Homo sapiens: one gene and its partners. The protein of the gene in region 2 purifies or fractionates together with the protein of the main gene of each other region. This does not show direct contact. Each region holds a gene or a part of one and is shown on either strand. Other genes may lie near its edges.

Region 1 (4,967 bases), on a different chromosome or scaffold from region 2:
TACCATTTTATAGATGAGAAAGCTGAGACCCAGAGAGGTTAAGTTACTTGCCAATATTAGACTGTAATAAATAGCAAAGCCAGGATTCAAGTTGAGGATCTGCATGGCTCCAAAGTCCTGTTTTTCTCGTACAAAATAACACGTTTTTATTTTTAAAGAAAAGATGAACTATGATTTTTAGACATCTAGACTCAGTTAAGATCACATTTGGCTGCAAGTAACTGACCCAAGTTCTGTGGTTTAACCAAGTAGAGATTTTATTTTTCTCACAGAGTCAAGAAATGGGTCCAGTAGAGCAGTTGCAGAATGCTATCAGCTTCTCAGCCTCCTTCTAACCTTCCACCCACTCATCCTTAACCCTCAAGCATCTTGTCTTTGGTCACGCGATGGCCTGCTTACTTTCTCCAGGGAAGAAGTACAAAGAGCAAAAGGCTTAACAGGCAAGCTCACAGAGGCTTCCCCTTTTAAGAGCTTTGGGGAACGGGGCATCCAGCTATTTACATCTCATCAGCCAGGACTACTGTCACTGAACCACCTCCCAGCTGCAAGGGATTCTGGGAAATCTAGCACTTAACTGGACATAGTGGTGAATTAAACAAAATGGGTTCAGTTACAGAAAAGGAGGGGGGAATGGATATCAGTTGGGCATCCAGCTGTGTCTTTCCCACATGAAGTGCAAGTCATCCTAGAGAATCAAATTCCCTTAGTAGAGAAAAACAATAAAAGAAACTTAATTCTGTGTTTAGTAGCTTTCTCAGTTATGCAAAGTCACACATTGATGGGGGTGGAGGATGGAAGGATCTGAAAGTTTGACAAAACCATCCAGGCAGCTGATCCAGAGGAAAAACACCGAGATTCAGGTGACTTCACACAAATGGCCCTGGCAAGATCACAGGTTCAACCAGTGTGTCTCCTGTGAGTCGTCACTGTTTCCCTTCCACCCTCTCACTTCCCAGAGTTAATTTCGAGAACCCACAGGTTCATTCGACTCTTCCATCATTCACAAGAAAAAGTAGATGTATTCAAATTCCAATGCAAACAAAAGAAAATTCTATACTGTGTTGTTATAAGAGGCAGCATCTTTAGAAAAAGATAACGGTTGCAAAGGCATTCTTTATGCAATAGCAGCCGCCCTGTCAAGTCACTAGATGAAAAAAGTAGACCACAGAGTTTCAACCTTGTTTTCATTTTTTCTAAATAAAGTAAATACAATAAACTTTCCTCATGAAAAACTTTTGCAATTCTGTGGTAGTAAGATAATATTTGTGTAGAGTACTATGGATGAAGAGAAGGATAACAAAGTGCCAGCAAAAGGACATCAGTGAGCTTGATCCTAGGCACGGAAATACAAGAAAACACAGGTACATTTAGTGATATGGTACAGTATTACTGCATACCATAAAAGAGTCCACACTCTTCCCAATGGGCCTACCTAGTTCTTCCCCAAAACTACCTTGCTGGCCTGAAGAATCTGGCCACTTCTTAAGAGTTCAGCTATTATTGCTAAAAGGAAAAATTAAAATTTGGCAACTTACTATTATTATTATTTTAGACAGAGTCTTGCTCTGTTGCCCAGGCTGGAGTGCAGTGGCGTGATCTCAGCTCACTGTAACCTCCGCCTCCCGGCTTCAAGCAATTCTCCTGCCTCAGCCTCCTGAGTAGCTGGGACTACAGGCATGCGCCACCACATTCGGCCAATTTTTGTATTTTTAGTAGAGACGGGGTTTTGCCATGTTGGCCAGGCTGGTCTCGAACTCCTGACCCCAAGTGATCCATCCACCTCAGCCTCCCAAAGTGCTGGGATTACAGGCATGAGCCATCGCGTCCAGCCTGGCCACTTCTTTAGGAATAGACTTGCCACTGAAAAAAGCCTTAGTACCTCTTTCACCAGGTGAAATGGAGTTTCACCTCTTAACAAAGACACACTAAGAATGAGCATACCTACTCTTCTGAACTTGTCTTTTCATGTCAAATGAATAATTTCCCTAAATTAAAGGAGAGGTGAAAATATCCAGGCCTATTGTGGAGTCCAGAGGGTGTCCATAAAATCTAGGGCCAGCCCCAAACGTGATGGTGGTACTTGATCTTCCTCCTACATGATCCATATTTAAGACATGACCCTTGGCCAGAATGACGGATACTCAGTGCAATTTGAGTTTATACAATTCCTTCAGGCATGGACATTGTTAGGTGCACCCCTGTACATAAAACCACTACATGATCTTTCTATTCTGAACTCATTACACTTGCCAACAAAAACAAGGATGTGTGTGTGGGCCAGTCAAAATGTGAGTCCCATCAAGTTCCAGGGAGAAGCATAACCAAAGAGCACTCACAAACTGTGACAACACATCCACTTGGACCACTCAGAGTCCAAACCCACCTTTCAGAAATAGACACTCTCCAGTGGGTTTAGACTGGTACGTATTTACCTCAGGTTCTCTCTCCTCCTCCCCCAAACTGCCTAAAAAGTGCGTAAACTTAAAACTCCTAGAAGAACCCATATTTCTTTTATCTAAAATCCAGTTGTCTGGTATGTTAGGTTTTTTTTTGAAGTGGAAAAAAAATGCTCACCACTTGGCTTCTGGAAACATTATCACTGAACACCAATTGAGCATCAGTAATTATTATATCTAAAATGAAGGGTGTAAAAGAAAGATTCTATGTATTTTGTAGGGTGGAATAATTCAGTTTAGTTTTAAATTTATGAGCTCCATTTAACGCAGCATCAATTTTTGCGGCAGTGACATATATGACAAAAGCTGTAGGGTTTTGTTTTGTTTTTTACTAGGAAGAAGGTTCTGACGTGCACTGCAATAAATTTGAAAAATAACTGACATAACACACTACTGATGCACTGAATTACAAGAGCCCAGAGCAGTTTTTGGACAGTTTGATAACTGATTTAATTGTGAAGTTATCCACCTTTGGTTGAACAGAAAATGCTGGCCAGAAGACATTTTGTTCCCTTTATTCACAAAGAATACCCTGCATAACCAGGCGTGGTGGCTCACTCCTATAATCCCAGCACTTTGGGAGGCTGAGGCAGACAGATCACCTGAGGTCAGGAGTTCGAGACCAGCCTGGCTAACATGGTGAAACCCCGTCTCTACTAAAAATACAAAAATTAGCCAGGCGTTGTGGTATACACCTGTAATCCTAGCTAACTGGGACCCTGAGGCATGAGAATCATTTGAACCCGGGAAGTGGAGGTTGCAGCGAGGCAAGATCACGCCACTGCACTCCAGCCCGGGCAACAGAGAGCGACTCTGTCTCAAAAACAAACAAACAAACAAAAAAGCAAAGAATACCCTGCATCAAAATGAGACAGTAACCCTAACAGCTTTGACTCGCATATTTAAATCCATCTGTTTGGCCACGGTTAAAAATAACAAAATAATCATGATAGTTATGATTATGGCTCCCTGAAAGATTTCACAACTGGCTGCTCAACTGTGATTTTTTTTTTTCTTAATTTTGGAGCTAATATGACTTTCTAAGGAAATCTCTGAAAATAAAAACGTCATTACGCAACATTTCTTGCCTATGTTTTCGCCTTGAAGCGACGTTTCTTTAATAAAGAATCAAGACACAGACCCAAACATGAATGAATATGCATTCATTAATTCACTCCTTCATCGTTTTGAAAAGGTAATTCAAACTAGGCCAGAGACACGTAATAACATCTTTGAAAAGACAGGCTGGGCACCCAGGGCTCACTCATGTAATCCTAGCACTTTGGGAGGTCAAGGTGGGTCGACTGCTTGAGCCCAGGAGTTCAAGACCAGCCTGAGCAACATGGTGAGAACCCGCCTCTACTAAAAATACAAAAATTAACCGGGCATGTTGGTGCATGACTGTAGTCCCAGGGAAGGCTGAGGTGGGAGGATCATTTGAACCTGGGAGGCAGAGGCTACAGTGAGCCGAGACTGCACCACTGCACTCCATCCAGGGCGGCAGAGCGAGACCCTGTCTCAAAAAAAAAAAGAAAAAAGAAAAGACAGAGTGCTGAATGAGGTCTTCTTTCAGTTAACAGTTTGAAAATTATGCTGGTTTGGGATATAAACGAAAAGTTAATTTTAATGTAACAAATTATCAACATAATCTAAATTTACTTATACAAATATTTTATGAATAGGAAAGGTTTTAAAAGAAGTCAGCTAGTCAGTAACTGAGGGGAAAAATGACCTTGTTCTGATTTATCTCACGGTGGAACAGGGAGCTACAAAAAGACTACATAAACAGTTAATTAACTGTCCCTCGGTGAACTTGTTCCCAAAAAAATGTCAGTGATGCCCTTGAAATTAGGCACTATTGATCTGGAACTTCAGTGTGTCCTGGATTTCAAATCAACATTTATCCATTAAGGCCAGATGACCTTAATTTTTATTTTATTTATTTATTTTTGAGATGGAGTTTTGCTCTAGTCGCCCAGGCTGGAGTGCAATAACGAGATCTCAGCTCACTGCAACCTCCGCCTCCTGGGTTCAAGCGATTCTCCTGCCTCAGCCTCCCAAGTAGCTGAGATTACAGGTGCCCACCACCACACCCGGCAATTTTTTTGTATTTTTAGTAGAAATGGGGTTTCACCATGTTAGCCAGGCTGGTCTCCAACTCCTGACCTCAGGTGATCTGCGTGCCTCAGCCTCCTAAAGTGCTTGGATTACAGGTGTGAGCCACCAAGCCTGGCCGACCTTAATTTTTAAAGTTGCTCTTGGAAATATGACAGTTGTTGGTCACAGGAATTTAACCAAAAACTGATCCTACCTTTCTCAATAACTCAAACATCTTTTAAGTATTCCGTGTTTTCCTACACCATATCTGCCTCATAAACATGGACTGAGAAAGAGAAATATTGGTTTAAATTAAGTATGTAAAATTACTGCTATTATTCAAACTGTGAATCAAATTTAGAGTTTTGGTATATTCAAGTCCCTAAACTAGGACTAGTTTCTTGGAAAGAAAGT
Region 2 (4,967 bases):
CCATGGGAACCCACCTCTTGCATCAGTGTGACCTGGATGTGAGATATGGAGTCAAAAAGATCATTTTGGAGCTTTAAGATTTGACTGCTCTGCTGGATTTTAGACTTGCATGGGGCCGTAGCACCTTTGATTTGTCTAATTTCTCCCATTTGGAATGGCGGTATTTACCCAATGCCTGTATCCCCATTGTATCTAGGAAGTAACTAACTTGCTTTTGATTTTACAGGCTCATAGGTAGAAGGGACTTGCCTTGTCTCAGATGAGACTTTGGACTGTGAATTTTTGAGTTAATGCTGAAATTAGTTATGACTTTGAGGAACTGTTGGGAAGGCATGATTGGTTTTGAAATGTGAGGACATGAGATTTGTGAGGGGCCAGGAGTGGAGTGATATGGTTTGGCTGTGTCCCCAACCAAACCTCATCTTGAATTTTAGCTCCCATAATCCCCACATGTCATAGGAGGGTCCTGGTGGGAGGTAATTGAATCATGGGGGAGCGGGTTTCACCATGCTGTTCTCATGATAGTGAAAAAGTCTCATGAGATCCGATGGTCTTATAAAGGGCAGTTCCCCTGCACACACTCTCTTGCCTGCCACCATGTAAGACTTGCCTTTGCTCCTCCTTTGCCTTCTGCCATAATTGTGAGGCCCCTTCAGCTATGTGGAACTGGGAGTCCATTAAACCTTTTTTTCTTTATAAGTTACCCAGTCTCAGGTATTTCTTCATAGCACTATGAAAATGGACTAATACAATCAGGTAGTAAGTTATTATGAGAGATGGTTCTGAACTCATGTGTCCTGGTAGCTTCTAAAGATAGACATTCTCATTTTCAATTTCAGGTAAAGAACACAATAGTTGGTTCTCATAAATGACTTGCCATATTGAACTCGAGATAATTTTGTAGGTTGAAAAATACAATTATATATTTTTAATATAATATATGTAAATCTTAGTAGTCTATTATTTTGGTTAGAGGTTTAATATAAGGTTTATAATTAAAGAAAAGGATACCTTCCTTGTTCAAAGCTTTTCCTAAATTTGGAAGTGAAGAACTTAGCACAATATATTTGTATATACTTTCTTTCAATTTGATCCCTACCAGCCTTGAAGCCACCAGAAATTAAAGGGAAGATTCAAGTAATCTAATGGTTTTCTTGTATTCCCACTTTATTTTGTCTTCTTGTATTCCCATTTTATTTTGTCTCCATTTCAATGTTTTTTCTTTTTTCCTTTTTTATTCCTACTGCCCAAGAAGAAGAGACAGAGGAGAAAAGAATAAAATAGCAAATTGACCAATTGCCAGCTATTGTTCTAGAAATTTTAGCTCATTTTAGCTCCTTGAACCTCTTTAGGCTTTTTGTCTGATAAAACAGTGAGGTAAAATTAGCAGACCAGTGACAAAGAGGAGGAAATCTGAGGGCAAGGACATTCAGGAGTACCTGTTGCTAACAATCTGAAGTTCAAACTCTCCTGACTGAGGGAAGGAGGAAGGAAGTAGAGAAGCTGGCAGGCTTTTCAAGGAAGACGTGGTTTTCTTTAATATTGCAATCTGATTTAACACCAGACAGATAAAAAGTTGTCTTCCTTTGAAGATTTTGTATGATTCATATGATTCATGTTGGTGTTGCTTTAGGAACTCAGGGTTATCACAGCTTATATTTGTATGGAAACCCCCTACACAGTCTGTGGGAAATCTCAGCGTGAAAATTGCAGGGTAGGCTGTGGAGATACAACGGGGGAGAAAAGTCAGCCTCTGATGACTCACTTTAAGGTACACTTGCTTGGTGCTATAGGATGGTGTCCTTCCAGAACCTCTGGCCTAGTTCTTTAGGAACTTATGCCAAGTTTCCCAATGGAATGTCAGATAATATCAAGGCTACATTTTACGGGCCTAGTTTGAGAGATTAGACTGTTCAAAGTTGGCTGAAAATGCTGTAATCAGTCTTCCCCTCAAGGATAGTGGATACAAAGGGTATAGCCATCACCATGGCATTGTCAACAACAGCACTGTCAGGGGAGAGGCTGAAGCTAGAGGAGACCCTGAGAATGAAAGAGGTGATGGGAGAGGAGAAGGGTCCCAGAGCTGATGGAGACTAGGAGAGCCATGTGCAGATGGCAGTGTTGGGTTCAGGGAAGACATGAATCAATGGCACTGGAAAATGCTCCTGTGACTGAGGCAGATGAGCCCCCAGCATGGGGAAGAGAGGGCAGGGGGAAGAATTTGGATGCCCAGGAACAGCAGGTCAGCCCTCAGAGTAAAAAGGGAACTGAGTGTTTCTAACATTGCAGTGATCTGAGGAATCAAGGATGGCATTTGTATGGGAGTGAGGGGAAAAGAAGCCAGTCCAGTTCAGATCTGGCAAGGATTAATTCCTGGTGCCTGTCAGCCCAGAATCAGCTCTGGCTTCTTCCCTGAGCTCTCACACATTGTGAATCAAGGATGCAGGAGCCTTCTGAACCATAATGGCCCTTTTTTTGTTTGTTTTATTCTGATTTATATAATAATCTCTCCTTTTTAGGCTGCCACTCCTCAACCACTCTCATTAGCCTTTTTTTGTTTCTACTAATGAAAATTCCCTTCTCAACCTGTAAGCATGTTCTACCATGAGGAGTATGATGCTTGAGTTCTTCAGAGTGGCTTCTTTAGTCATGATAGGGAGTGACTCATATCTTTGCTTTACTCTAGGAGCTTTGTGTGTCACGGATTGAAAGAGTTTTTGAGATTTGCCGTGGTGGGGCATGTTTATGTTAAGGACATGCTCACTCTGAAGTTATTGTGACCTAATTAGGCAATTACCTACCATTGTCCTGCCTCCCACACATCCTGCCTATTGAGGATTGGAAGACTATGAGAATAACTTGCTTGATGGAGCCAAGAAGGACCCTAGAGAGACAGAGAGATGTGCACAAGTTTGGCAGCACAGCTAATAAATGAACTCAGGTCTTCTGTCTCTGCATTTAGGGTTCTTTCTGAAATACGATATGACTCTTGAAATTGCTTCTGGATAGCCTGGCAATATAACTTAGAATTAGCTTCTCCTTACATGAGAATTAGCTTCTCAGCACAGACCCAAGATTTCTAGAGACTCAACTCATCTACACTAGATTTTATCATTCCACCTTCACCTCTACTCCTTCTGACCCTGCTTAGCCATGCCAGTAAAAGGAGCTCCACTTGAAGTTGGAATACGGAATAAACTTTTGCTTCATCCAGTCAGTGGAGTGGTGTGTGTGGCAGCCTGAGAGGCAGGCTGCTTCAAGAGAGATAGCTACTAACACTTATTTGAACAGTGGCAGGCTACATGTCTTCGCTCCAAGTCTCAGTTTCCTCATTTGAGAAAATATACATTTTTGTGTATTTCAGCTTAATCCATGATAGATTTGAAGCCACCTGAAATTAAAAGCTGAGCTGAGGTCCTTCAAGTACTCATATTCTGTGCTTTCTTTGCCCATAAACACAGGGAGCTGTTTAGATGAGGTCATATGAACATTCTAGTTCAGCATTTACTTCATGGCAATAAAGTATAGAACAGGGAACCAGCACAATATTTAGACATATTTGCCAACAACAAACAGCTGGGTGCTCAAGCCTGCCTTTGCTCCTCCTCCCCAGCCTGGAGGTCTTTCTTTTCAAGAACTTTTCTGGTCCCGTGGCACCACCTTATGGTTTCAGTGGATAACTACTTGACCAGTCTTGTCACTATTCCCTTTTACAAGAGGTACGGCCTGTCACACCAGCTGTTTTTCCTGTTCTCAGACCAGGTAATTGAAATCCGTTTTACTACACAGATGTGCCTCTTCCTCCTTTCTCGATTTCTCCAAACTATTGAGTGCCTTTCTCAGGGAAATCTTTCTCACGCCTTCTTCTCTTTTCCTAATCTCTCCCATCTCATTTCCTTTTTCATTTGCAAACCAAAAATAATTGTGCTATGTAGTCCCTTATGTCAAGAAGAACAAAGTGAAACAATTTTGAAGTCGCATTAGACCTAGCAAAGAACTTCAAAAACCTTTGAAAATACCCTCAAAGGCATCTTAACATTTCTTACTTACATTTCCACTGAATTATCTCTTCCTCTAATTAAGCCTACTTTTCTTCATCAGTTGCATATACAAGAAATTTTTAAAAATGATTTATTACACAGTTTTCTTAGTTTTCAGTTTTGGTTAATGACCAGCAATACAATAACATTGCTTTACAGTAATTTGCATTGCAAATATGCCAGATCTTCTGCTATTTTGTGTATCAAGTGGGTATTTTCAGTCACCTGGGAATCCAACCGCTATTTTAATAGCATTCTTTTGTGGGAAAATCTGTTCTGAGTTTCAAACAAATGCCCTCCAAGTAGAGTTTTGGAACCCAGCCATATTGTAAACTGTGTGCTGTCCATAGAGCGTTGAACATAGTTTAGGGCATACTGGGAGACATTGATCCAAATGTTTATATAGTGTTTTGAAAGATAAGGACTTTCTTATTCTTTCAAACAGTGGAATAATTTGATTATGCAAAGAGCCCTGGAGGCAGCATGATGGTTCCTTAATATGAATAATAATAACGACAATAATATTGCAACCATTTTTCAAGTACTCCATGATGTACCATGCACTGTGTAAATTGCTTTACATGCATGACTGTTTTAATCCTTGTGGAAATGTTCAACACAAATATTATCATCCCCATTTCACGGGTGAGAAACCTGAAGTTCAAGAGGTTAAAATACTTTGTTCAATATTACATATCTAGTAATGTGTCACGATTCCAGTGGCCTGGCTCTTAAGCACTATAGAAAGAAGAAAATGGGCACAGCCAAGTGTGGTTTATGGAATGACAGAGTTGGCACGGACCTTAGAGGATTAAAATGTCATGGACATATGCAACTTTGCTTTCTTCCCTCAAAAAATCATAACTCAATCAGAAAGTTAAAAAAAATCTTAATTATTCAGCCAATCACTAAAAAATAACTTCTTAT
Region 3 (4,967 bases), on a different chromosome or scaffold from region 2:
GCAGCAGGCGGCGGGGCGCCTCACCTGTGTAGCCAATCTTCTCGAAGCTGAGCAGGCTGAAGATGCTGTTGTACAGCTGCATCTCCTTGCGGTGGCTCTGGTCCATCCCATCCAGGATCTCCATCAGCTCACTGCCTGTCTTGGTCGGGTGGGCGCACGCAGCCTCGTGCACCGTCAGCTCATGGAAGGGGCCGTGCCATGGGCAGCCGATGCGTTTGTACTTGCACTGGGTTACCCTGGGGGAGGCAGGTACATCACTCACAGACTGAGCCCCGAACAGGAGGCTGCAACAAGCTGTCCTCCCATATGGCTTCCATCCAGCTAAGAACCCCTTCCTGCAGGACACACGTAACTGTGAGCCCACCCCCCAGGATGAGGTCAGAGTGGCAGCATGTGGAGAGAAAGGAGACAGGCAGAAAAAGGGAGAGAGAGGGGAAGGAAGAGTGCAAGCTTGAGCCTGTGTGCCCCGCACCATGGCGTGGTTCTCTCCTCTGTTTGGCAGTGGTGGTCCTGCACAGCCTCACTGCAGGAGACTTGGTGGCTGCCTCCACTGGATGGGTAGCCATGGGCAGTGTACCCTCACACCAAGCTCCCTGAGGTCCTGCGTTGGACACGCTGTCCTGGGCCCTTCAAGGGGCTCCCCCACAGCCACAAAGAGCACTGGAAGGCTAGGCTCATGTCCGGATAACAACTGGGTGCAAAACCCACCTGTCCCCATCCTGTGCAGGCACCCTCCCACAGGGCCGTCACTGGGCTACACAGGTGGTCCCCAAGGCCCAGACAGCAGAGACAGCCAGACCACCCTGCACAGGGCCCTGCTGCACCAGGGTGGGCTCCCAGCAGTCCTGGGCCCCGCCTGTAAGGCTAAGCCCCTGACCCTCAGTTACCTGTCCTGGCATTCCTCTTTCTGGTGCCTCTCCAGGAGGGAGCGGGGAAACTGGCGCAGGCAGAAGCCACACTCTGAAGGCAGCTCGCTCACGGCTTTCTCCACGGCCAGGTTCCGGCAGCAGAGGCTCTTACTGATCTCACAACGACAATTGGGGCACGTGGCCTGCTCCTCCTTCAGCCGGGCATCTGCTAGTAGGTGGATAAAACAGCCAGCGCACATCAAGTGACCATTAGTACACTGCGAAGAAGGAAAGGGAGACGAAGCTCACAGACCTGCGGGCTCATGCTCGCACACACCCGCCCATGCCCATCAGCTCCAGCCAGGTGTCCTGAGGGACTCCAGCTGGTGCAGAGGGGCGCACGTGCCTGTCCCGAGTCGTGCTGGAGTGTGGTGAACACTGCGAGCTGCTCAGGAGAAACAGGCAGAGCCAGCTTGGGTTCTTGCAGAGATTAGAGGTCCTAAAAGCAAGGCCTCATCAGCTCACAGAGGTGACAGCTCGCCCTGGCAGTGACGGGTTCAGCCACCTGGGGCCGAGGGTCACGCTTTTCCCTTAGGGACCAGCGACTGCCCTGACCCCCCTACAGGTCCAGAGTTTGGGAGCCCTCCAGGAACACTGGGCTCTTGGCCATCACTGTCAGGTGGGGAGCGGATGCAGCTCCCACACTGGGGCAGGCATGCTCTCTGGGCCTTCAGAAAGGCCATTTATCCTGGGTTGAGAGGACTTGGCTCAGGGTGAGCCCAGGTGAGAGGAGGCAGCTGCCCCCTCGTCCAGGGAGGTTGGCTACCTGCAGAGACCTCCTCAGAGCTGGGAGGCAGGAGCCAAGCTGGCCCAGGACAAGGACAAGGGCAGGTAGGCACACAGGGAGTGCCTGGGGAGCAGAAATGGGGGCTCTGAGTGGGTGCCGAGCCTGCTGGGGTAACCGGGGCTGGCAGGAGCAGGGCACCTCCCGCTGGGCTCCCTGCCTGTGTGGGCTCCCAGCACGCCCAGTGGCCTATCCTGGCTCTCACTCCCTCAACATAAGCCTCGAGCGTCCACTTGGTGCCACTGAGAGACACATGGCAAGCTGCGGTCCCAGCCCGTGGGGGCTCACAGCATGGGAGGTGGGAAGCCCAGACCAGAACCAAGAGGTCCAAGAACAAACAAAGCCTTTTGTACCTGAGCAGACACAGTTCCCACAGCCCTGGCTGGAGTGGGGTGTGTGGGCTGAGGCATTCCAGGGCCAGCCAGGAGTGACAGGGATGTGATGTGCCTCCCACCCAAAGACTCTTAGAGCTCGCTGAGGGGAGCAGTCAGCAGAGTTGCTCCTGTCCTGATGCCTCTCCAGCAGCCGGCCCAGGCTTGCCAGCCATGCAAACCTCCAGAAAGCCACTGGGCTACAGGCTTCCTTTGGGACCTGGGACCCTCTTGAGAATGGGATGTGGTGCAGCAGAGCAGCCTGCCCAGGCCCAGCCTCTCTACAAGGTGTGTGTCAGGGAGGGGACACTCACAGGGCCCTGCCTGGTGGCGCTGGGAGGCCGGCCCTGCCTGGTGGTGCTGGGAGGCCAGCCCTGCACACGTGGGGCCCTGGGAAGTCTGAGCTGCCATCCTACTGCTTCAGCTGCCTGTGCACCCCAAGCTAAGGAGCTGTCAGACGCTGGGGCTGTTCACTCAGCACCTGTGGACTAGGCCTAAGGCCTGCTGAGTCAAAGGACCTACATGTGGAGAACCGACAGTGAGGACAAAGCCCTCTTTCATGGAATCCACATCCACATGAACACCACCCGTTACCTGCATTCAATCCTCAAGTTCTCAGTTTGGTTAAAAATTAAAATTACAGGCGGTGGCTCATGCCTGTAATCCCAGCACTTTGGAAGGCCGAGGCAGGCAGGTCACCTGAGGTTAGGAGTTCATGACCAGCCTGGCCAACATGGTGAAACCCCATCTCTACTAAAAATACAAAAATTAGCCATGCATGGTGGCGAGCGCCTGTAATCTCAGCTTCTCAGGAGGCTGAGGCAGGAGAATGGCTCGAACCCGGGAGGCGGAGGTTGCAGTGAGCCGAAATGGTGCCACTACACTCCAGCCTGGGAGACAGAGTGAGACTCTATCTCATGAATACATAAATAAATAAAAATTAAAACATACACAGTTGCCTGAGGCAGGGAGTGAGACTGGCTCTGACTGGGTTGGGGACAAGCTGAGACCTGCCCCCAGGAGAAGGTGTGAAAATCCGCCAGCCAAGTCCAGGGGTCAGTGGTGGGTGGACTACAGGCAGGAGGGGGCACAGATGCTATTGAAGCAGCTGTCCTGTGGGAGGCACAGACCAAGGGCCCACACCACTGTCCTCTCACAGCCCCCCGCCCCCCGGAGGTATGCCACTCCACGTGGCCAGCTCTAAACACCTCCTGGTGAGACTGCCGGGGGCCTTGGACGAGGTTCTGGGTCCAGCTCTGCACGTACAGTGGCCTTAGCACAGGCAAAACAGCACTCTTCTTGGCTGTGGCCCGACCCCCAAGGGAGTTCCAGGCAGGGCTGGAGCATCTAATGCCACCCACCAAGGCCACCTGGCCTCTCTTCCTGGCTCTGCATAGCCCAGGAAGATTCGAGGTGGGGTCCTAGACCCTCCTAAGGGAGCACTGAGGCTGCCAAGCACATCACCACTTACCTCCCAGCACTGCGGGCCTCTCCCCCGAAAGCCACCCCAGCTCCTGGGCCGGCCCCTGGCCACAGGCCTCATTCCTTTGGGGCCTCCAGATCCCAGCATGGGCTCAGTCAATTCCATACCATGAGGAGGCAGCAGTGACCCTGCCCTCCTCTGGCTCTCTCTGGGCCTCCAAGAGGACCTGCAAGCTCCGAGGAGACACAGGGCCATTGCCCCTTCAGCCCCAATAGCTCCATTCAAGTCAGAACACAGGGAGTCCCTAGAGTGCCCTGGACTACACTGGCCCAGTAGCCAAGGGACACAGCCACACTCACCCCCAGACCCTCCCCACTGGTCAAAGGACATCTCTAGGTGCATGGCCCGGTCCCGACCAACACTCAGCCCAGGAGGTCTGTCCACAGCAGGACGGTCCCTGGTCACATGCTCCGGAGCCTCCCCACCATCTGGGTCCCCTCAGCCCCTGCGCAAGACTCTGGCTCTACACCAAGGCCAGGCCACAGGCAGCTGCATCCTTGGCCCTGGCAGCATCTGGCCAGATGCACTTGATTCTGACTTGTGCCCAACACCCAACAGAAGCTGGGCCCTGGAGGGCGCCGCACAGTCCAGGGGATGGCGTGGGCCAAGGCCCCCAAGAGCCCGGGCACCTTCCAGAGCAGCTGCTGTGGCACCCAGGCCAGGCCACCTCTCCCCACCAGCCAGGAAGACCCCAAGGGAGGGGAGAGGAGGGGATCCACAACCCCCCACGACCAAGAATGACGCCATGGGGGATGACATCATGGGCGAGACATCACAGAGGATGATGTCAGAGGGGTGACATCGTGGGAAATTGACATCACATGGGGAATGACATCATGGGGGAGACATCACGGGAATGATATCACGGGATGATGTCACATGAATGACATCACAGGGGGGACATCATGGGAGACTGGCATCACATGGGGGGATGACATCACCGGGGGATGACATCACAGGGGCATGACATTGCAGGGGAATTGCATCATGGGGGGTGACATCACGGAATGACATCACAGAGATGACATCACACTGGCATCATGAGGGAATGACATCACAGGGGATGACATTACGGGGATGACATCAAAGGGAGTATTGACATTACAGGGGATGACATTGTGGGAAATTGACATCATGGGGGACTGACATCATGGGGGGATGGCATCATGGGGGGAATGACACCATGGGGATGACATTAAAAGAGGTATTGACATCACAGAGGTGATACCACAGGGGATGACATCATGTGGTGACAGCACGGGAATGACGTCACATGTATGACATCACAGGGGAATGATGTCATGGGGGAATGACATCACGGGGGAATGACATCACAGGGCCTCCTGGGCCCTCCTAGGGCAGATGTGGGCTTGAAGCCACAGTGCTGGGCTCAGACGCCAGCCCACAGATCCCCAGTAATA
Region 4 (4,967 bases), on a different chromosome or scaffold from region 2:
CCGGAAGATAGGGTAAGTTTTTCTCTAAAGGTGACAACTGCTCATATAATATTCAGTCTTCAGTTGCCAATTCAAGACTTGAATTTGGGATTTGGTTCCTGCAAAAGTCCGGATCATCAGTGAAGGTCACAGGCACACTTGGATCTTTCCCAGGGAATCACCACAGAAGCCTCTACGCCCCTAGCCATCTGCTTTGTCCTAGTGCGGAACAAGCAGGATTAGAGGGAAATGACACCGTGACTTTGTCTGGGACTCATCTGCAAAGTGAAACCTTAGACTAAGAGTAAGGCCATCTCTTCGCCTCTCGGAATCTACAGCCTCCTTCATAGAATGCCGATAGCAATATCCATTCACTAATTACATTATTTAACAGCCACCTAATTAATTAAAGCAGCATAAATGAAGACATGCACAGAGCAAATGTCAATAAATGTTTGCCACATGTTGGTTTGCACCATGCAGACGTCCATGTCCAAAGTCACCCCATCCTGTTAGGTTCTGCAAATTACTCGGGGGTAATTCGGGAACTCAAACTCCCGGTCAACCAATCCGCTGATGAGAGAACATTCATTTGCTTTGTCTTTCTCCAACAGCCAGCCTGAAATAAAGAATGAAAAGGAAACACACTAAAAAACATGATCCCTGGACAGAACCACCTTTCAGAACAGCAGGCGGCTGCTGTGACTGCCATGTCACTGCGTTCTGCTCCCAGCTCCCTATCTCACACAGCAATCCTAAACAGAGGCTCAAGGTACTTCCTTCTGGAGAAAATACAGAGCTCTGTCTTCAGTCATTCAGTCAACGTGGGCCCAAGAGTTCCAGAGCGAGAGGAAGAAAGCACACCCACCAAGTTCTCTAATATCAAAATAGAGCAATTTATTCAAGACACTGAATATGATCTGTTGATTCTCTCTTGAAACAAATGAGCTACAACACACAAGGTGATTTTTTTTTTTTTCTTCAAAGAGCGTGAGGGTGAGTACAGGTGGCGGGGGGAATGAAAAGGCGGTCGCTGTCATCTGAACAGAATCGGAAAAATGCCAATAGAGAACATGTCTGGCTGTACGTCTGACACAGACAATAAAAACTGCACAAGCCAGAATGCAAAACTTCAGTGAGTGGCGGAAGGAACATTTCTGCATTTGACAAGAAACATAAGCTTTTTTTTTTTCTTTTTTTAAATGGCGGAACAAAAGGTTAAAAAACAGAAAAGCAACAAGAACAAAGCAGACCCTTACATTTGACAAAGTGCACTTCACTTGGCTCCATGATCTATTTCTTAGAAAGACTAAACAAAAGTCAAGTCCTACGGTGTCGCGAGGGGTCAGAGGGTTTCACCCTGTAACGTCCGGCCCTTTTGGTCCCCCTTGGGGCAGCATCCCTTTCCCAGGTGTGTGCTGGACCTGACTCTCGGTCACTGTGAACCCGACCAAACACTCTAGGAAGGTCTGTCATGCTATGTCTGCTTTCAAGGTCACGTTTGGTCACTAAGACTTAGGCATTCCTCACCATGTTTTAAGAGCTGTAAACAACGTTGAACAATAACATTCCACAGGCCATTTCTTGATTACAGGGATGACTCTACCAACATGCCAGCAGCAGAGAGGGTGAGTAGTGGTGTGCAAATGCTGGAGGCTCTGAAAACGGCTGTCCATGGTGTTGTCCCGCTGAGAACGGGGATGGATATGAAGGGTGCTAGCTGCATCTCGCGCTTGGTTTTGCTTGCGGCCGCAGGCTGGGGAAGCCAGGGATGGAGCCTGGGGTCCGAGGCCTCCCAGCCCAGGTTTCTACCTAACAATTCCGACATGGTTCACATTCATCAAGACTAAAGCCATCCCTCGGGAGAGACCCTGGCTACCGACATTCATGTGAAGATTGTCTAGTGAATTGCTTGCGACACATCCCACCATCGCCATCCCACAGTTGTTACTGGTTTGTCAAGCATAAGCCATGCCCTAACGACAGGCTGGCCTTTGACAGCAGATGTTCTACAGAGATGAGTGCATTTTTATTTGGGTGGGGTAGAGATGGTGTCTTTTGGACCCCAACAAACTGTACTCTAAACTTCACAGAGTCCTTGGGACGGGAAATCATCACCTCATCCAGGGACACTGGCTATCTTCAAAGATGGGTGCGGCGACTCCACATCACTGTGACCTTCTTTGCTAAGTGTTTCGGAAACAGAACACGAATAAAATACTCATCTCAGAACCAGAGCACTTTTTGGTCTTCTGGGACATGAATAATTCACATACCCAAGTGGAGGCCAATCAATGATCTGAGAATGATCAACGCACCCTGGCTTTTGCAGGTGGTCCTGGCACGTTCCAAGTTCCACAGAAGCCCTGACCCTTCCCCGATGGCTGGGTTTTGGCTCCGCAGATGAATGCCACCTTCACAATAACACCGTCTCACTGCTGGAACACACACCAGATTGCACCCTACCCACTGCTGGTGACCCAGCAGCCCCCACGGGCTGGGCCATCTTCCTCAGCCCTTCTGCCCACAGGAAAACCAATGGGAGAAGAGGCCCTTGTCCTTTGGCCTTTTCCCCCTTGCTAATGACAAAAATAAGTCCGTGTCGGGTTATGACAGCAAGCAGATGGAGGTCACCAGATTCACTGAAATGAAGCTCTTCTAGGAACACAAAGCCTTGTTTAATTTTTTAAAAACAGCAAAAAGATTATTTAAAAAAGATCTTTCTCCTAGTCTTCTGTGAGACAAAGAAATTATAAAGATGGCAGAAATTATTAGCGACGTTCTACCTCTATAATTCACGTTCAGGACTGAAAATCTTCCTTCTGCATTCATTTCTGTCAGCGTTAGACTAAGTGACATGCGGGCGCCTCTATGTCAGCTCTGCAAGGACTCGCCAAGCCTGCTCTTGGAGAAATGACCATCGGTCGTTATACGGTTGTGGGAAAGATGTAGCCAACACGCCTAATCCAGCCGAGCAGTCGGTTTCGACGGCTTCTGCAGTACCTTATGGTTCTGCCAATGCTCCCTTGAGGCCAGAGGGCGCGCGGCTCTTCGCTGCTTTCCTGCTGGCTGCCAAGGTGCATACACACCAAAAGATGCGAGGTTCTTCTTCCAGCCGGCATGGCGGGGACCTCCCTCACTGGCTGCAGAGCAATCTCGCTGCTGACCCCGAAGACTGACCCTTGTCCAGCCAGAGTTTTCCTGACCACCTTTCCTGAGGCTGAGGGGAAAGCCAGGGGCTCCCTCAGGCCCTGCCTGTGGCTTCTTCGGTTCTTTTTAAAACATGAATCACACAAAGCTCTCTATGTCTGATGGCCATTTTAAGATTTTAAAATTGTTTTAACATAAAAATATTATTTTTTTTTCCAAAAATACTCCAGGCTCTTTCTCTTATAAGTCATTTTTTTTTCTCCTGTAAAAAGCCCCCCTGCCCTGCCTTCTTACATAAAGCACTTACTACGCGCCAAAGTGCCCTTGAGACCTAAGATCTGAAGCAACTATGAGAAAGGTACAGAGGGAGAGAGAGAGAGAAAGAGAGCACGCCAGTGAGAAAGCGAGCGCGAGCGCGAGCGCAAGGGGAGGAGAGGGTGGGAGAGGGCGGAAGGGGGAAAGCTGTCCGTGGGAGATTGTGTCTTCATGTCCACGGGGCTGCATCTCTTGATGGTGCACTGAAAAAGCAGAGCTCACCAGACAGAGTGGAAAGGCAGGGGGAGGGGCAGGGAGCAACAGAAGGAAGAGACAACAAGCCCAAGACAGCTTCCATCTCAGACGGAAGGCCCCCAGAAGATAGAATTCCAGCCGACTGAAAAACCACCCAATGAACAAAGAAGATTCTAGAAAATAGAAAGTGTTGGGATTACAAAGTTGCGCGTTTCATCGGTACAAACTGGTCTTTGAACCTCCTTTGTGAGAGCAATTGTAGTGTCCAAATTGTTAGGGAAAACAAAAAAAAAAAATCCCAAGGAGGAGGGTTTTTCCCCCTTCCCTGTTTGGTTTATCACAGCATTTTGCTTTTTTTTTGGCACAGCTTTTTACGTTTCTTTCCATTCAGCCATCACAGAGCCTGTTCCGGGTGGAAACCAATCCACACGCCTCGAGCTGGTGACTTCCTCCTTCCCAGGCTGAATGTCCTCAGTGGAAACCATTCTATCCCCGTTTGATATGATTTGCTTCTGTTTTTGCTTGCCTTTTAAAAACTTCTTGATGAAGATTACGAAAACATATAGACTCCTGCGGCCAGAGACGAGTTGGTTTCAGAGTACACTCTAACGCAAGTCAAGTTCCTACAGTTTTGGAGAATAGAGCTGCAACCCTACACATTCACGGCTGGTCATTAGAATTCTTTTCTTTTTTCGATAATATTTTGTGGTTACTTCCGCAGATCCAAAACACACACCTGGAAGGAAAGATAAAGCACCTGTCATCTTGAGAGACAATACAAAGATGCCTTTAGAGTGAGAAGTCGGCAAGCTACGGCCCCCACGCCCAATCTAGCCCTCCACCGATGTTTGTCAGTAAAGTTTATTGGAACATCGTCATGAAGGGTCAGAGAAGCTCTCATAACAGACTGGCATCTGGACATCGGACCGAGCAAACTGAAGCAAACAGCACAGAGCAGAAAGGCCAGGTTAAGGGTAATGATAGGAATTAACAGAGTGGCAGAGGTCCCAGAAGGGACACCTGCAATCGTGGGGCAGATGACAATACGAGCCCAAGTACACAGCCTCTGACAACATTTGGGGACTACTCTGACCCTTGGCCGTTCAGCCAGAACGGCCGCTTGCCCCAGAGGTCAGGGCAACCTCAAGTCCAGGGGAAAATAAGAAATCCAGATGCCCCATGGGAAGAGAAGAGGGCCCAGGAGACCTGCAGGATGGCCACCAGAGGCCCGGGCTTCTCAGCCACAGCATGGGTGACAATTGTGGCCACCCTGTGCACAGTAGGAGGTTTAGCAGCATCCTCATCTAAGCACAGTCACGCGTCACATA

What was found.
Region 1: the proteins of HAO2 (region 2) and PPFIBP1 purify together in Homo sapiens (affinity purification with mass spectrometry; 2 studies listed by BioGRID and IntAct, with this or other methods). This does not show direct contact.
Region 3: the proteins of HAO2 (region 2) and ZFTRAF1 purify together in Homo sapiens (affinity purification with mass spectrometry; 2 studies listed by BioGRID and IntAct, with this or other methods). This does not show direct contact.
Region 4: the proteins of HAO2 (region 2) and TBL1X purify together in Homo sapiens (affinity purification with mass spectrometry; one large-scale study listed by BioGRID and IntAct). This does not show direct contact.

The regions. Positions count from the first base shown.
Region 1 is NC_000012.12:27,526,276-27,531,242, reverse strand, and holds part of PPFIBP1 (liprin-beta-1), read right to left. Parts: intron 1-4,967. UniProt on the Homo sapiens protein: May regulate the disassembly of focal adhesions. Did not bind receptor-like tyrosine phosphatases type 2A.
Region 2 is NC_000001.11:119,371,397-119,376,363, reverse strand, and holds part of HAO2 (2-Hydroxyacid oxidase 2), read right to left. Parts: intron 1-4,967. UniProt on the Homo sapiens protein: Oxidase that catalyzes the oxidation of medium and long chain hydroxyacids such as 2-hydroxyhexadecanoate and 2-hydroxyoctanoate, to the correspondong 2-oxoacids.
Region 3 is NC_000008.11:144,452,335-144,457,301, forward strand, and holds part of ZFTRAF1 (zinc finger TRAF-type-containing protein 1), read right to left. Parts: intron 1,127-4,967; coding exon 888-1,126; intron 237-887; coding exon 25-236; coding exon of another isoform or gene 1-24. Other genes in the region: TMEM276-ZFTRAF1 (uncharacterized protein LOC157542 isoform 1 precursor), read right to left, coding at 25-236, 888-1,126.
Region 4 is NC_000023.11:9,715,628-9,720,594, reverse strand, and holds the end of TBL1X (F-box-like/WD repeat-containing protein TBL1X), read right to left. Parts: intron 4,376-4,967; coding exon 4,349-4,375; 3' UTR 855-4,348; downstream 1-854. UniProt on the Homo sapiens protein: F-box-like protein involved in the recruitment of the ubiquitin/19S proteasome complex to nuclear receptor-regulated transcription units. Plays an essential role in transcription activation mediated by nuclear receptors.